Regions from separate parts of the Homo sapiens genome. Here region 1 is linked to region 2. The links come from fine-mapping of genetic effects on gene expression. Tissue or cell type: tibial nerve. Region 2 holds a variant in brackets; the other region holds the start of a gene. All regions are shown on one strand. Distances are between the middles of the regions.

Region 1 (8,000 bases), 260 kb before region 2:
TGAAAATGGGAGAGAGGGAAGGACCTTCTGAGAGTCACGTGTGGTGGAGAGAGATGTGTACTTGGGGTCAGAGGCTCAGACTGGACTCCCAGGCGCACCAGTTAAAGGGCCAAGCACATGCCACACGCCTTCTTGGAGCCTTGATTTTCTCCTGTAAAATCAGAATAGTGCCCCTAAAGTTGTTGTGAGAATCGGAACGAAATGAGTACTGTTCAAGAAAAGAAGTAAAGCATTATTTTATTATTTTATTTTATTGCCAGCTAGAAGCTATTTCTATCACCCTTCTCCCAGGTCAAGGCGAAACTGAGATGGCAGTGTCGACTTGCCTGCTTCTATTTTCTTTTCCCTTTTCCCTCTGTTCATAGAATCCTGGGGACTGTTGTGTTCCTCCAGATCTGCTGTGTCCGATTTATTGAGCTCCCCACAATCACAGCAAGTGCTGTAGGAGCACACTCTCTTTTGTTCTCCTTCTATGTAGTCTTTTAAAAATATCACTATTGTGTAATGGGTATTGTGTAGTGTCCTGCGGCGATCACAATATGCAGATATATTCAAATGTGGTGCTTAAAAAGGAATTAAAGAGCCACATGAGCCAAATTGAAGACTGAACAAGATTAAATGTCAGATGAATAATATGAGACACGCACTTTCAACGCTCTACTTGAGTCTGTACTGGAAGGTCATTTGAACTTGCTTCCCATTTATCCATATGAAACACGAGAATAGCAATTTAATTTACCCTATCACATAGGAATGCCACGACAATGTGTATGAGGAGTGCTGAACTCCTTGGATGTATAGTTATTTTAAAAATAACTAGAACAGGAAATAGTGTATATGAACACAAGCTGATCTGTAAAGCCAGAAAAGACCACAGAACTAAGGCAGACTAATAAGGCATTGATTTTAATGACTGGCCATCCATCCAGCCCCAGAGCAACCTCCACTCTGTTTGGTTTTGATGAACAAAATAGAAGCAACAATCAAGACATCAGGAAATTACATGAAAAAACATTTAAATCTTAAAATCTTTCACAGGACAACAGTATTGATATTGGACTCAAAACTGACAAGAAGGAAGAAAACTTCCGTGTGCTCATATTTTTGAGATGACCACGTTGAGAACAGATGACTGACTCCGAGTTCCATTTTCTTTAAGATATTTTGAGCCTAAAGGTAATAATACCTTTTGATTAAAACACACACTCTCATATTTGTAATGAAATCAGAATCAGAACTCATAAGTGTCAGTAATTTCATTTAATATCAAACAGCCCATGGTTGAGGGTTCTGAAACTCTAAAATTGGAAGTAATTTTGCATTGTGCTTCACTCTGAAATGTACCCCTAAGAAAGTTGCTCTAATAAGTATTCTGGGGAGGAAGGTAAGTGCACATGCATCTCCTGAGGATGCAGGGAAGGAAACTGATGTCTGTTGAGCTTTCACTGTGTGCATATAGAGATTATGGCATATGATTAGTTCATTACAATGAAACTAAAGAGTGACATCCTGAAATTACAGAAGTCACAATGGAGAGTTAACCAGCAGCATGAGAATAGTGTGACTCGGTATATTGCAAATCCTCTTTTTCTCCACATCCAATGAGTCAGAAAATCTCCCAAACCATACCTTTAAGATGCATCCAGAACCTCACTGGTTCTCGTGCCCCACTGCTGTCCATCATGTCCAAGCACCGTCTTGCCTCACTGGGATTGTAAGAGCCTGCTTACCCGTGTCTCCTCTGATCAGAATTCTCCAGTGTTGCCCTTCACCTCTCAGATTGAAAGCCTAAACCCTTCCTGCAGCCTGTAAAGTCCTCAGTGCTGCCTCCCCTTCTCTGCTTTTAACTTAACTCCTGCTATTCATCTGCTTTCAGTCACTGCTAATCCCCGGGGTCTACAGCAGTGCTGGGGACAGAGTAGATCACAATAAGTATTTGCTGAATGAATGAATGAATGGCAATTAACCTCAGCATTTCCTGGATATTACTGTGTTTGGTTCTGTGATGGCCTCTTTTGGGTGACAGATGAGCAATAAAGATAAGTCTTGGTTCTTGTCCTCTTAAGAACAGGGGGGAGTGCACTAGTCAAGACTCATTGGTTATAGAAAATAGAAATCTCATTCCAAGTTAGCAAAAGGGAATGTGCTGTCCCCAGAACCAGCGTTCAGAAAGCGCAGGGGTGAGGTGGAGCCCGGGACTCTTGCATCTGCCCGGCTCTTTTCTACCCACCTGGCCGCTCTCCATGCGTGGCTTCCTTCTCTCCAGCTGGTGTCCCTGGAGGCTGCAGCCAGAGCCACAGGCCCATCCTGGCTACTGCACTGGTGTTCGGTGGCCGCTGTAAGAAGTAATTACAAACGGGGTGGGTGGCTTAAACAACAGAAATCTGCTCTCTCAGTCTTGGAGGCCAGAAGTCTGAAATCAGTTCCACTGGCCTGAAGTCCAGCACAGGCTCTGGAGGAGCCTCTTCCAGCCTCTGGTGAGGGCTGCCAGCATCCCTGGGCTGTGGGTGCATCGTTCCCATGGCTGCCTCCGTCCTCACCTGGATTTCTCTTGTGTGCGTCAATCTCCCTCTCCTCTGTTTTATAAGTTACATACATGACTGCATTAGGGCCCACCCAGATAATCCACGATAATCTCTCTGTCTCAGCATGCTTAATTGCTTTTTAATAAACCATGTAAGGTGACATTCACAGGGTCAGGGACTAGGACAGGAATGTCTTTTTGGGGAGGAAGGCTGTGTTTCAGCCTGCCATGGCTACCATCCTTCCAAATCCACGAATGATGGGAGAAAGAGACCTTTCCACCAGCCCGTGTTAGAAGAGTCCCAACTCTGAGTGACCCTGTCTAGGCCACTGCAGAGCCCTGAGCCAGTGGGGAAGTGGGGCTTTGGGAAGGAGTGGGAGTAAGGAGGGGGCCTGTCACTTGGTTGGAGTTGGGGAGGGAGCTACCATTCCCCCAAAATAGGCAGAGCCGGGTGGCTGCTGGTGAGACAGAAACCACACAGCTCCATTAAATGGCATGTGGGGAAACATGATAACATAAGGGAGTAATGCAGGAAAGTGTGTTTGGGCTGGGCGTGGTGGCTCACGCCTGTAATCCCAGCACTTTGGGAGGCCAAGGTGGGCGGATTGCTTGAGCTCAGGAGTTGGAGACCAGCCTGGGCAACGTGGGGAAACCCTGTCTCTACAAAACATACAAAAATGAGCTGGGCATGGTGGCTGAAACCTGTAGTCCCAGCCACTTAGGAGGCTGAGGCAGGAGAATGGCTTGAGCCTGGGATATGGTGGTTGCAGTGAGCCAAGACTGCACCACTGCACTCCAGCCTGGGCGGCAGAGGCAGAGGGAGACCCTGTCTCAAAACAAAAAGAAAAAGAAAAACAAACAAACAAAAACCTTTGCTGGGAAGCAGGAGAGTTTCCTGGAAAGGAAGGCGGTAGGTTTACACCTTTCCTGGGTGCTCAAATTCAAAGAGATACTGTATTTCTGGTTTTCATCTCTTTGCAATTCATTTACCTTTTTTTTTTCCTCTCTGCAGAACACAAATCCGGTCAAGTTTTGGGTTGTCATGAGGGAGAACTGACATAGCGCTGGGCGGTGAGTTCAGCCAGGTTATCTCTGCGAGGACACCGGTCGGCGGCGGACAGCAGCACGCGGCGTCCAGGACCCGGCCTTCCTAGAGCTTAGGTCACTGTAGCCTCCAGGGGCGCTCCGAGTCCATCTGGAGGGCCGCGAGGCTTCCAGGCTGGAAGGAGGAATAGGGAGAAGGAGGAATAGGGAGACCTGGGGCAGTGTTACAATTACAGAAAAGGGAGAGGCGAGGTCCGCTGAGTCCTTGGCCTGGGCAACAAGGCACACTGAAAACTGGGTTCCTTTTCGACCCGCATCGTGCGCGCCCTAGAAATGACAGCCAGACGGAGCAGGGTCTAAGGACGCTGAAAACCCCTGACGTGGGCGCGCCGGGTGCGGGTAGGGACGTGGAAGGACTGGGCTAGCCACAGGAACTACAGCGCTGCGGACCGGGTGAGGGGTCCCGGCCCGAGTCCCCACTTGGGGCGCAGAGGTGTTTCTGTAAGGGGACAAAGGGCACTCCTCGGCGCGATGGGCGACTTCCCCAGCCAGAAAATGAGAGGGTTAGACGAGGGGAGGAACTTCCTCAGCCACTTGGCCCGGCACAGCGACCGCCCCAAGTTCAGAACCGCTAAGTCAGTCCGGGGCGCTCCGGCCCCTTCGTCCCGCGCCCCGCCCGCCTCCAGCCCGGGCCCCGCCGCCCCCGTCGCCCCTGTCGCCCGGGTCGCCCCCGCCGGCCCTGGCCCCGGCCCCGCACACCGGCAGGGGGCGCCCGAGCGCAGCTAAAAGGCTCGGCGGGAGGTCGGCGGCCTCAGTGGCGGAGCGCGGCTGCCGGTGTGCGGCCGGGAGCGATCGCCGCGGGGCAGGGGCGCGGCGGGCACCGCGCAGAGCGCGCAGAACAGACGGACGGCGGCGGGGACCCGACGGCGGCGCCTCGGCACTCCCCAGACTCCGGCCAGCGCCCCCCTGCCAGCCGCAAGCACCCAGCCCCGGCCCACCCCGGGCTCTCGATGGCCCCCGAGGCCGGGGCGACCCTGCGCGCGCCGCGCCGGCTGTCCTGGGCGGCGCTGCTGCTCTTGGCCGCGCTGCTCCCCGTCGCCTCCTCGGCGGCGGCCTCAGGTACGCGCCGCGCCCGGGCCCCCGGCGCTCCTCAGCTCCCCGCGCACCCTCCTGCGCTCGGGCCCCGTCGTCCCGCTCAGTGCTGGCTACGGGTCGTGTCACTAGCCTGTGCGTCCTCGTCACTCGCGGGTCGGGGCACTTGGCGCCCTGTGTGGGTGGCGGGAGCGGGGACGCCTCGGTGCCCGGGGACCGCAGCGCGCTGGCGTTTAACTTTGCCGTCGCCCGCCTTGGAGTCGGGAGGCTCCAGCCGTCTAAGTGTCCCGGGAGATTCAGGCACAGCGGGGAAAAAAGGAAAAGAAAGGCGACTTTCAGCGTGCGGACTGGGGTAATGCCTTTCTTTGCCCAGAATTTCTCGGGAGCGTAGGTGGTCATCCTACTTTCTCCGCGTTCACCTCTCGCGAGGCAGGATGACGGGCGCACTCGGGAGACCGGAGGGAGGCAGAGCAGGGCTGTTCTAGAAGGTCGTGGGGGAAAGGCTGCGAGCTGCCGCAGGGCGTCGGGTGCCTCTGCGCTCCAGAGGAGAAGCGCTCCAGTGCCAGCTCGGCTCCAGGCGGCAGGAGGCCCGCGCGCCCGGGGGGAACGTTCAAGCTGGGAGAAAATGTTTGTCTTGAGAGGAGGGAGAGGGAAATGAGAAAGCTGATTCCAGAGAAACTCGCCCTTCCCCAATGGCTGAGGCTGCAGCCAGGATGGATGCTTCCTTTGAGAGCAATGCTTTTCAGAAAATGCTAGCGCGCTCCTGTCAGATTTCTTGCAAGCTTCCTGCAGAGAGAGACAAGTTTGTGGCGAGGTTTTCATTCCTAAGCCTTTGGCGGCCCTTGTTACCACCTCCTTTGCAGGCATTTTTACACTTGAAACTGGCTTTTAGGTTATTGGTTTGTAGAAATCCAAGAAGCAGACAATGATCGTCAGATACTATTCCAACGAGGGTACCAGTTTTATGATGCTATTTAGTGTATATATTGTTCTCTTACTTCAGGGGTAAAGGAAGAAAAGTTGGGGATCACATTACTTTGTGACTTTTTGGTAGATACATCATCCCAATGCTTGGCTCAGGTTTATGCGAGGTATTCTGATGCCAATGCCACTTTCTCATAAAAGGCAGTGCCTGCCGTAGGGTCTTTTTCTTCCCATTAGTGAACTCTAGGAAAGTATTCACTGAATACTTTGCACAGTACTTGAGAGGAATAAAACTAAATAAAGTCTTCCAACTTCCCCACCTACAACTCCTGGCTTTTGTTTTTCTAAGTGAAAATTTTCAGAGTGCTGGAAGAGTTTTTGTTTCTGAAAATGATCTGAAACTGGAACCAGTGCTGCCCTGGCTTTGTGGCGATTCCAGCCTTCTGCTTTTCCGATTCCTCTGCCACCTGCCCGTGGGTTGCATGTGAGTGGGTCCGAGCGGGGTTGTTTGTGAGAGCTCCTGGAATCCCACCGCGATCTGCACTCTTGCTTTTTCGCCTTCTGCTCTGTGAATCACTGTGCTGAGGAATGCTGGGGCTGGACAGCTTCCCAGCCCTTCTCTCTACTGTGTTGACGTGGGATCTACAGTCAAATGATGACCAGACTAGAGGTGGACAAAGGAGGACAGGCACATTTCAGAATGAAATCTACTAAATTTAAATTAAGTAATAGAAGGATAGAAACAGACATAGCAACCTGTAGATAGCTCCCCATGCTGTGGATGAAATTATGGGGTACATAACTTCTTTCATGGGCTCCCTTTGACAGCAACGTCATGGATAGACTGCTCCCTCTCTCTGGTTGAACTAATGCATGGACCAAGCGAGCTGCTTGTGTCAAGCTCTCCCCTTCACCACCCTTTTGGGGCCAGAATCTCTGTAAGGAAATTACCCACGGCCACATAATAGTGGCTCCGAGGGACTTTGCTTAAAGCAGGACACACTGAAGATCTGGATAAGCCCTTCAGTGTAGGGTCAATTAAACATAAAACAAAATAAGCAAGCAGTGTCCCCTCCTCCACTCATATTCATCCCTACAATAGGATACTATGCAAACATTAAAATTATGATGGCCTTGCCAGTCTGGTATGATACATTTTTCTAAACACATGTGGATGTACTCACACATGCACATATTTGCAGTGGGTATCTTAGGATGGTTAGGGATGATTTTTATTTTCTTCTTTAAAGAAGCTTTTAGGGAATTTTCCATGTCAAAACTATTTTCAAAGTAATACTAAGATTACTAAGATGCTATTTTCCTTTTTCACAGTTGACATTTGCACTGAGGGTGCAAAAGCTTGATGGGTAAACTGCGGGTGTCTTACTGAGAATCAAGGCAGGGACATCACCATGCACTAGTAGTCTTTGAATTTTGGGGGGACTTTGCAGTTAAAAAAAATTTGCCAGTTTCATTAAGAATGTTCTTGATGCCACAGTAAAATTATTAATTTTACCAAATCTTTGTATCTTTGAGTGTATGTCTTTTTAATAGTGTAAATAAATGGGAAGGACACATAAGTTACTACTGCTGATGACCAAGTTCAGTGGCAACCCCAGGGGGAAGCACTGGTGTGATTGTTTGTGTTATGCATTAAGCTAGCTGGTTTTTTAAAATGGAATGTGGTATTTACCACAAAGAATGACAACAGACAAACTAGAGCTATTCTGACTTGGGTATTTGGCCGATGTTTTCTCAAAAATGAACAAAGGGAACTTGCTACTTCTAGTAAAATAACTGCTATTATTGCTTGCCAATGATAACATTTCAGCTTTCAAGTGAAAATCAGAATTTTGCCAAGTTGTTTCCACCACTGTAAGCTTGAAAGTTTCCCAATATTTAAATTTTTTTCTAGTGAGATCAATGGTGATATAAATGAATGTGATTTGTAAATGTCATCTCATAAAATGTGTCAACATTTGGATGATCTGCATAACCAAATAAACCAATAGATCCAAATGACCAGTGTATAGCCTTACAACAATCTTGCATGGGTAAAAGGTCTGTTCAAAGTGCATGATAGCCCAATGGATTTTTAATGTAACAAAATATGAAAAATTCTTCATATGATTTCAGATTCTAAGAATTGGCTACTTGATGAATTTTGGTGTAATATCAAAGATTTTTCAAAATTATCCAAAAAGGCTATTGAAATAGTTGTCCAGCTACACATCTGTGTGAGGCTGGGTTTTCTCCAAGCAAAACGACATATTGCAATAGATTGAATGCATAAGCAGATCGGAGATATTCTATTAAAAAGATTTGCCAAAATGTAGAAACAAAGCTGCTCTTCTCACTCATTTCTCTTTGTTTTGGGAAACAGTTACTTTTCATATAAATATATTTGTATGTCAAC
Region 2 (8,265 bases):
TTTTTTTAGTATGTGCTGGATATGGACTAAGTGCTTTACATGAATCATTTCATTTAACCCTCAGTAAACTTCAACATACGTTATGCTTCCCATTTTACAGATGTAAAACTGAGACTTGGAGAGGCTTAGGGACTGCCCAAGGTTACACACCTAGCTGGTGATCCACCAATTCCTAATATCATTAACTAAAATTTAGTGATCCAGGTGCTAATCATCTGGTATTATCATTTTTTATGTGAGTAGCACACACCAGTAGTTTGCATAAAACAGAGACAGTAAAATAGGCCAATGTTACAATTTTCTATGAAAGGCACAAAGGTAATATAGCATGAGGCTTCTATCTACCAAAAATTCATAAACCATTTGTTTATGAACAAGACTCACAATTGCAGTAGACCCTTGAACGACACAGAGCTTACAGGCATGCAGTCAAAAATCCATGTACAACTTCTGACTCTGCAAAAACTTTACTAATAGTCTATTGTTGACTGGAAGCCTTACTGATGACAAAAACAGTCAATTCACATGTATTTTGTATGTTATATGTATTACATTCTTTATTCTTACCATAAAGTAAGCCAGAGAAAAGAAAATATTATTAAGAAAATCATAAGGAAGAGAAACTTTATTTACTATTCATTAAGTGGAAAAAAGTGGATCATCATCAAGGACTTCATCTTAGTCTTCTTCATGTTGAGTAGGCTGAGGAAGAGGAGGGGTTGGTCTTGCTGTCTCAAGAGTGGCAGGAAAGATGGAAAAAAATCTGCATATAAGTGGACCCGTGTAGTTCAAACCCATGTTGTTCAAGGGTCAACTGTGATTAAACTGAGTTACAATTCAAGTTAATGTATAATCTTCACTGAACTCATAGCCTATTTTATCAAAGCTAAGAATCTTGTCATAAAAAGACCAACACAAGAAAACACCACCTCTCAATACTCAAATGTTCCTCTTGATGAAGTCACTGTGGCTATTGCACTGAAGTTTCTATCTGAACGTATCAATCTGCAGAATTCTTGGGGGTGGGTGTGGTATGCAGAGAAGAAGCAAGGGCCAGAAGTCAGGGAAGAAACATGAAGAGCGCCTGGCTGGTCCCAACTTCCCTCTGGTCACACTCCCTCACCCTTTGCCGCCTCATCCCTGCTACCTATCCTTGTTGAGGAAGAAGAGATGGGAGAGAAGAGAGTAGAAAGAGAGAAGGAAGTGAAAAGAGTGTTAAAGAAAGACATAAAGAAAATGGAAAGGAACTTCAAAGGGTCTTTGCATTGTTCTGAAGGTGAGAAGGTAAAATTAAACCTCCAAAAGAAAACTTTGCACTGTTAACAACAACAAGTTTTATAATACTTGCTTTCCTTGAAGAAAAGAAAATAGGCAGAGGGAAATGAGTGGATATTTCAAGGAATGTTATATAATGTCATAATGTAATGAGGGTTTGTGTGCTCTATGATGCTATGACAATTTGCAAGATTAATCCATTCAGTCTCCCATTTTTCCAGGCAGGGATTCTCATCAGGAATTCTCATCAGGGATCTGTTGAACTTAGAGGAATCTAGAAACCTGAAAGTTTTGCAAATTATTAGTTTCCGTAATTTTTCTGGGGAATGGTTCTGAAGCTTCCAGCAGCATCTCAATGGCATTTCCCAATTCTGCAAAGATTAAGAACTGCAGATTAAGGCAGATAGATTCCAGAAACTTTCGCTTTAAAGTTCTGACTTGGCAGGCAATTGGGAATCTTTCCACAGAGTGCTTTCCTCAAAAGGATAAAATAGTGACTTTATCAGACTTTCCAGTAGCCCCAATATTGCATCAAGCCCTTTCCAGGCAAGAATCCATATCCTCTTATCATTTCTCTTATGATCGGGTTTAAAGTTTTCTCACCCTCCACCAGTTGCTTCTAAGTATGCCCTGACCTGTCAATTTCTCCTTAATGCATGGCACCATAAAGTGAGCACTGCAATCCAGGATGAGTCGACCCATGAGGAAGCAGGCACTGCCCACCTTATTTTGAACACTTTGTTTCTGTTATAAAACCAAAGATCCCAAGAAGTTTTTTGAAAGATGCGTAATCCTTTTGTCTGGCAGGGATTTTTGACAAGTAAATTTCCTAAATCTTTCCTCATGTGTTACCTCTGAACTCAGTCACTTTCGACTTATCTCATATGTATACACTTGAGTGTTAGAAGACTAAAGAGCAGGATTTTATATTTATCTCTTTTAAATTTTATCTTGTCTAATTCAGTAAATGTTTAGCAAAGTGCATCAAAGTATTCTGGAAGCTCAATTTCTCATCCAACGTTAATAGTTGTCCCTCCCAGCCTCGTGCCACTCATGGGTTTATTTATCATGATCTCAAAGGCCTATCCAAGTCTCTGGTTTCCATATGGACAGGAGCAGGAGACCAAAGACTAGCAGCTCCTCCTATCTGATGCTGATTTAGGTTGATCAATGAATCAATGCTCTTTAGCTTTAAAGCATTCAACCAATTGTCAATTCAGCAGATTAAAATGAAATTCAGCCCATATTTCTCCATCTTGGCAATTTGAATATCAGGCAATTTTTTAAGAAACTTGCTGAAACCTAGATACTCTTCTTATGCATAGCATTCTTAGATATTTTCCACTCTACCTCATGACAACTATTGCAGAGAGACAGATTTTGGCTTAACAAAGCTGCTTGGGGCTGGAATACACCTGCTTCAGGTGGTGAGGTCTGTCATTGAAGGTTGAAAACATCTGGCTGGAATAAAATAGGAAATAAATAGGAATAAAATAGGAAAGATTTGGGTATCAAACAAGAGATTGAATTCTGTATCTGTATAGTGACTTGAGACTCTGAACATTTTTGACTATAAATGATGCTTCATGGGTGTTGAGTAAGTCAAATGGTAGCTTCGGGTAAGATTTGATTCAAGGATCAATGATGTCATCATGATCCCTTTCTGTTCTTCTTTTGTGTGCCAGAGTGGTTCTCAGGCTGTCTCCCCTTACTGTAGTCAGTTGGCTACAGCACCTTACTGAGCCCAGAGGAGAGGAGAATGTCTATAGTCTAGCATGCCTTGCAAACATATTAAGACTTGCACTGATTTAGACTGGATTAGGTCATGTGTCTATCCTGCAACAATCACTGTGGCCACAGAGATGAGACATGCTGTTCTGGTTATCTATTGCAACATAACAAATCACTTATCTCCCATGGTTTCTGTGGGTTAGGAATTTGAGTAAGCTCAGCTAGGTGACTTTTCCTGGGGCCCCTCATGGATTTGCAGTCAGATGGTGGTTGGGGCTAGAACAGTGGTGGGGAAGAGGAGTCGATGGTGCTAGGAGCTACCTGGCCATCTTTTTTTCCTTAAGGCAGTCTTGAGGCCTCTCTATGTGGTCTCTCCAATTGTGCCAGTTTGGGCTTCCCCACAATATGGAGGCCTCCGGGCCATGAGACTGCTTGCATACAGTGTCCCAGGAGAATAAGGTGTAAGTTTTTGGCATTTCTGTGGTCTAAACTCAGAAATCACATAATGTCTCTTCTGCCCTACTCTATTGGTTGAAACAGTCACAAAAACCCACCCATATTCAAAGGTAGGGTACATAGACTCTATCTCTTGATGGAAGAGGGGCAAGATTCTAGAAGAAACTTCTAGAAGAACAGTCATCCTTGGAAAATATAATCTTTCACATATGCTAATGGGCTTAATCCAATCAAAACGTGGCCCTAAGCTAAAAGCCCAAAAACAATATCCCAAAGTAAGCCTGGTTGATTGGGCATGGTGGCTCACACCTGTAATCCCAGCATTTTGGGAGGCTGAGGCAGGAGGATCGCTTGAGCCCAGGAGTTCAGGACTAGCCTGGGCAATATACTGAGACCCCATCTTTTTAAAAATTTTTAAAAAATATATCAAAGTAATCCAGGCTGTTATAGATGGGAGAAGAGGGGTGTAGATGGCAGAGAACAATCCCTCCTTCTATGTGAATGGGGACCAAAGCACAGGTGCAGAGGGATGAGGTCACTGTATTCTACCTACTTTAATTTTTTAATACAGATTTCTAAAACTACTTTATCATATGACA[G/A]ATTTTGCCAAGAACTTATATTTACAACCAAAACTAAACACAACAGTGTTTGATTTTTTAAAAAGAAAACATTAAGTTACACATCATTAACTTAGATCTGCCAATGGAGAATCCATCTTGATGCATTAGGCTGAGTTTTCTTTGTGCTGGTTATAAACCGATTAATGGTATTAACAAAGGTGGGGGATCAAGGAACTATTTTAAGGGGATGAACAACTAGCTTTAATGTTGCTGAAGAGAAAAGGTGCTAATTATAAATATTTCTGAGAATCTGTTCATTAAACACTTTTGAGATTACAAAAGTTATTTCTTGTCTGCATTCTGTTATAAAAGTTTTAAATTCAAGTAAGAATTCAGTAAATACAGATAAAATGTGTACAGAATAAGGCTTATTTCTTTAAAAATAGTCAATAAATCAATATTTTTGTGGTTTTGTCAAAGTGACATTGACTTACTCCTAATTAGGATCAGGCTTTATATATTGTTTTTAATTGGGAGAAATATGTACCAAAATAAATATGAGATTTATTATTATAAATTCATATTTAAAAGGTAAAAAACTGCTGTGTGTCTGTGGCATTGCTGTTTTAAAGATTTCCTTGCATCCCCCCAAGAATGGCAGATAGTGTAATTACAGTATTCCTGCTGTGAACTTTTCTTTGTTTTCTAAATACAGTAAGTGTATCCGAAAACTTATTAAAATGAAATCCCCCTACCCTCTCACTCTTCGTGACTGTCAGCTTCCGATAAGCCCATACTGATGGTACTGATGGCGGCCAATTGCCCCTTGGCATTTGCTTTATTATAATTGCCCAATGGGTTCATCCTGCCTGCTGCACAGATAAAACCAATCTTCTGAGACAGCAGTATTACAGTAGAGAAAGAGTTTAATTATCACAGGACTAGCCAAGTGGCAAATGGGAGTTTATGACTCAAATCAGTCTCCCTGAGAATTCAGAGGCTAGGGTTTCTCAAGGCAGGGGACTAGGGAATGGGGAATGCTGATTGGTTGGGTTAGGGATAAAATCATAGCTGTCTTCTTACACTCTGTCAGTTCCTGGGTGGGATTGCAAGGTCAGATGAGCCAGTTTCATGGTATGGGGTACCAGTCCAGGTGGCACCAGCTTGTTCATTGGAATGCAGTCTGAAAAATACCTCAAGTACCAATCTTAGATTTTGCAATGGTGATGTCACCTATAGGAGCAAATGGGGAAGTTACAAAGCTTGTGACCTCTGGCTACAAGGCTCCTGAACCATAATTCTAATCTTGTGGCTAATTTGTTAGTCTTGCAAAGACATATTTGGTCCCTGAGCCAGGACGTAGTTAGTTTCAAGAAGAGACTGTTATCATCTTTGCTTTAAAGTTAAACTAAATTCCTCCCACAGTTGGCTTGGCCTATGCCCAGAAACAAACAAGGACAGCTTGGAGGTTAGAAGCAAGGTGGAGTCAGGTCGGATTTCTTTCATTGTCATAATTTTTCTATGTCAGATTTTTCTCACTGTCATAGTCTTTGCAAAAGCAGTTTCATTGAACTCCATTCTGCTCATGGAACAGTAGCTGCCAAGACTGGAGCTGGGGTGTTAAATGCGTGGAAAGACACTCAGCCTATGCCTCCCTCTACCCGCCAACACCCACAGCCTGCCTGTCAACAGCCCCATGCTCAATCATCCTAGGAATCTGCTCTACTGCTCTACTGTTTGGCGGTGGCTCTAGATTACTGAAGCTTTCTTCTCTCAAATGCTTGCTGTGCCAACAGTGTGTTTAACAAGGAACAGCTAAGACATTGAGTGTTCAAACAATGGTCAATTGTTGGGTCTGTATGAATTCAAGCAGCAGACTTGCCTGATTGCTTCATTTTTCTTTTTACCAGTTTGACTAACACCGCCTATTATTTTAACATTAGGTAGACTTTTTTAGTCACAAAAACCTACTCTCCATTTTTTAATGCCTTGCTAGATATACTTATTGTTGAATGTATGGTTTCTCTGCCTGTTAGCAGTGTTTTACCAGCTTTTGCCAACACAGCTTGTGCCCTATCTGCAGAGGACAAAGAAATGCAGAGGCCTAGAGAACAAGTCCATGCTCTCCCGTTCCCTGTTCAATGTCACAAGAGAGGCGCTCCCACACACCCTGTTGCACTGGAATGGACACAGAACCCTCAAGCTGTCAACAGTGACTTCCCACCCTGGGACCCCCTTCCCTCTCCCCTCTTCTGGCCTCCCCAGTCACTTCCAAGTTCCCATTTCTTCCACTTCTTCCAAATAATGCCTGCCCATCTTCACAGTGAGCACCTGGACACCACACTCACCTTCTCACCAGAAGTGCGAGTATCTCAGAGAGCGTTTCAAGGCAAGCCAAGGGGCAGAGCAACAGTGACTCTGGTGGCTAGTCCAAAGGCAGTGGAAAGTGGCCACTTCCCTGGGAGCCATAAGAAGGACCTTACAGTCTCACTTGGGCCCCATGAAGCTCTGGAGTATCATTCAAGGACTCCACATTTAGATTCTCCAAATGGCCAGAAATGTGCTGATTAACAGTTCACGAGGAACCACGTGGGTGCCGTAGGGTGCTGAAGGTTGCATGGCTGCGAGAAGATGTTCAAATATACCTGATAGGTGCTTCCTGCCCCATCCCACAGTATTAACCACGTGTTTCTGAAATTTTGACACCTAGATCCTCACTGACACTGGAGGGACTGCTCCCCCCAGGGCTAGTCAAGTCCTAGAGACAGCAAATGACTCCCCCATGAGTGTGCCCTTCATGTGCAAACCACACAGTCCAGAGCCCACATGCAGACCCTGTCTCCTCTAGCAGGCTCTGCCATGCTGGGCCTCTATTCCCCTGCCGTAATCACCCCAGGGCCAGGTGCCAGACAACTGGAAACAGCCCCTATGCCCCAGACCCAACAGAAATTATTCACACTAGCCGGTCCTAAGCCTGCTCATCCTATCTCCCCAGTTTCTTCCCTCGGAAACCTCGGCCGAGGCTCTTGCCTGTGTTTCCTCTAGCTTCTCTGCCACCTGCCCAACCCTGGTGCTTCCGCATGGGGCCCTGAGCATCATAGTGTGACCCTCCTCTCGGGAACTGAGTGACAATGGCAATCGTCTCATCTGTTGGCTTCACCGCACCTGAAAACCTACAATTTACACCACCAACCCCACTTTCTGCCAGAAAAATCTGTCCTAACCAGCTCCTCTGGCTGGGTTTATACATATTCTTATCACAGCTGCCAAGATCATGGTCACCAACAGGTCTTATCTGTGCAAAGGGGATAATGATAGAGCGAGGATGGTATGAAGAGCACGCTAGGCACACGCAGTGAGCTCTCAGCCCGGGTCTGGCGCTGGGAGGTGCTTGGTGCATCTCAGCTCTGATTACGATGATGACAAACTGTGCACCTCAAGGCCTCCAGGTCACCTCTGAGTGCCAGACACTTCCCATTCCAGCCCCTGTGCATTATCCTGAGCAATGCTTGTCTGCCTGTTAACACCAGCTCTGCAGATGAGAAGCCTCTCAAAACCCTTCCCCTGCACACCTCAGCAGGAGCAGCTGCTGCAGCGACACTGGGAACCCTCGAGTCTGAAGCCGGTGGGGAAGGGGCTCAGAATCTGCTTACCTGAGAGCTCAGGGAGCCTCCAGAGAGATGATTCACCTCACCTGGAGAGAGACAGCCAGAAAGGGCTGCTTACCCAGCAGCCGCTCCTCTGCCGTGCAGGAGAAACAGCAATTCTTTCCCTTAGATTTGTCTCTGGCCCAGAACCACCTCCATCTGATTCCTGAGGAGAGACGGAGGTGGGAACGGGGGTTTAGGGGTTATGGTTGAAGCTGAATGAGCTTCTTTCTCTTAAAACTCCAAACATCAACATTCAAGGCAGTACAGCTGACGGAACACAAAAGAACATCAACAAATATTGGACTCCAGTTAATGACATGTGTGGGAACAAAGGCACTGATGTTTGCAGCTGACTTTGAAAAGTCTAAAAACAATAAGCTGGATGGATGGGTAGCTGCACAGATATGTGGAAAGGAAAGAGAGCTGACGGCCAACAGCTGCGATGTATCTAGATGTGGCTATGTGAACCACCGTATAATTCTTTACATTCTTCTGTATGTGTAAAATATTGGGGACAAAAGGGACCAGAGACATCTTCCTTCTTCAGCATGGAAGGCAGAGTGGCCCTAGTATCCCGGGCATTCCAGGCCTCC

What was found. PIP is the estimated chance that this variant, and not a neighbour inherited with it, causes the effect.
Region 1: it holds the start of FNDC1-AS1, and the variant in region 2 is fine-mapped to the expression of FNDC1-AS1 in tibial nerve (GTEx, PIP 0.95).

Annotation. Positions count from the first base shown.
Region 1 is chr6:159,165,019-159,173,018 of GRCh38, forward strand. FNDC1-AS1 (FNDC1 antisense RNA 1) reads right to left here and starts at 4,989. Exons shown (of 4, transcript NR_121668.1): 1 at 4,794-4,989; 2 at 3,515-3,743; 3 at 2,231-2,336; 4 at 881-1,170. It overlaps FNDC1 (fibronectin type III domain containing 1), which reads left to right and starts at 4,382. Exons shown (of 23, transcript NM_032532.3): 1 at 4,382-4,687. The coding sequence starts at 4,579. RefSeq lists a silencer at 4,261-4,430 and an enhancer at 5,237-5,736.
Region 2 is chr6:159,428,807-159,437,071 of GRCh38, forward strand. No RefSeq gene overlaps it. Among named protein-coding and RNA genes, the nearest start is that of LINC02529, 49 kb to the left of the region's middle. The variant G/A (reference allele first, on the strand shown) is at 4,062.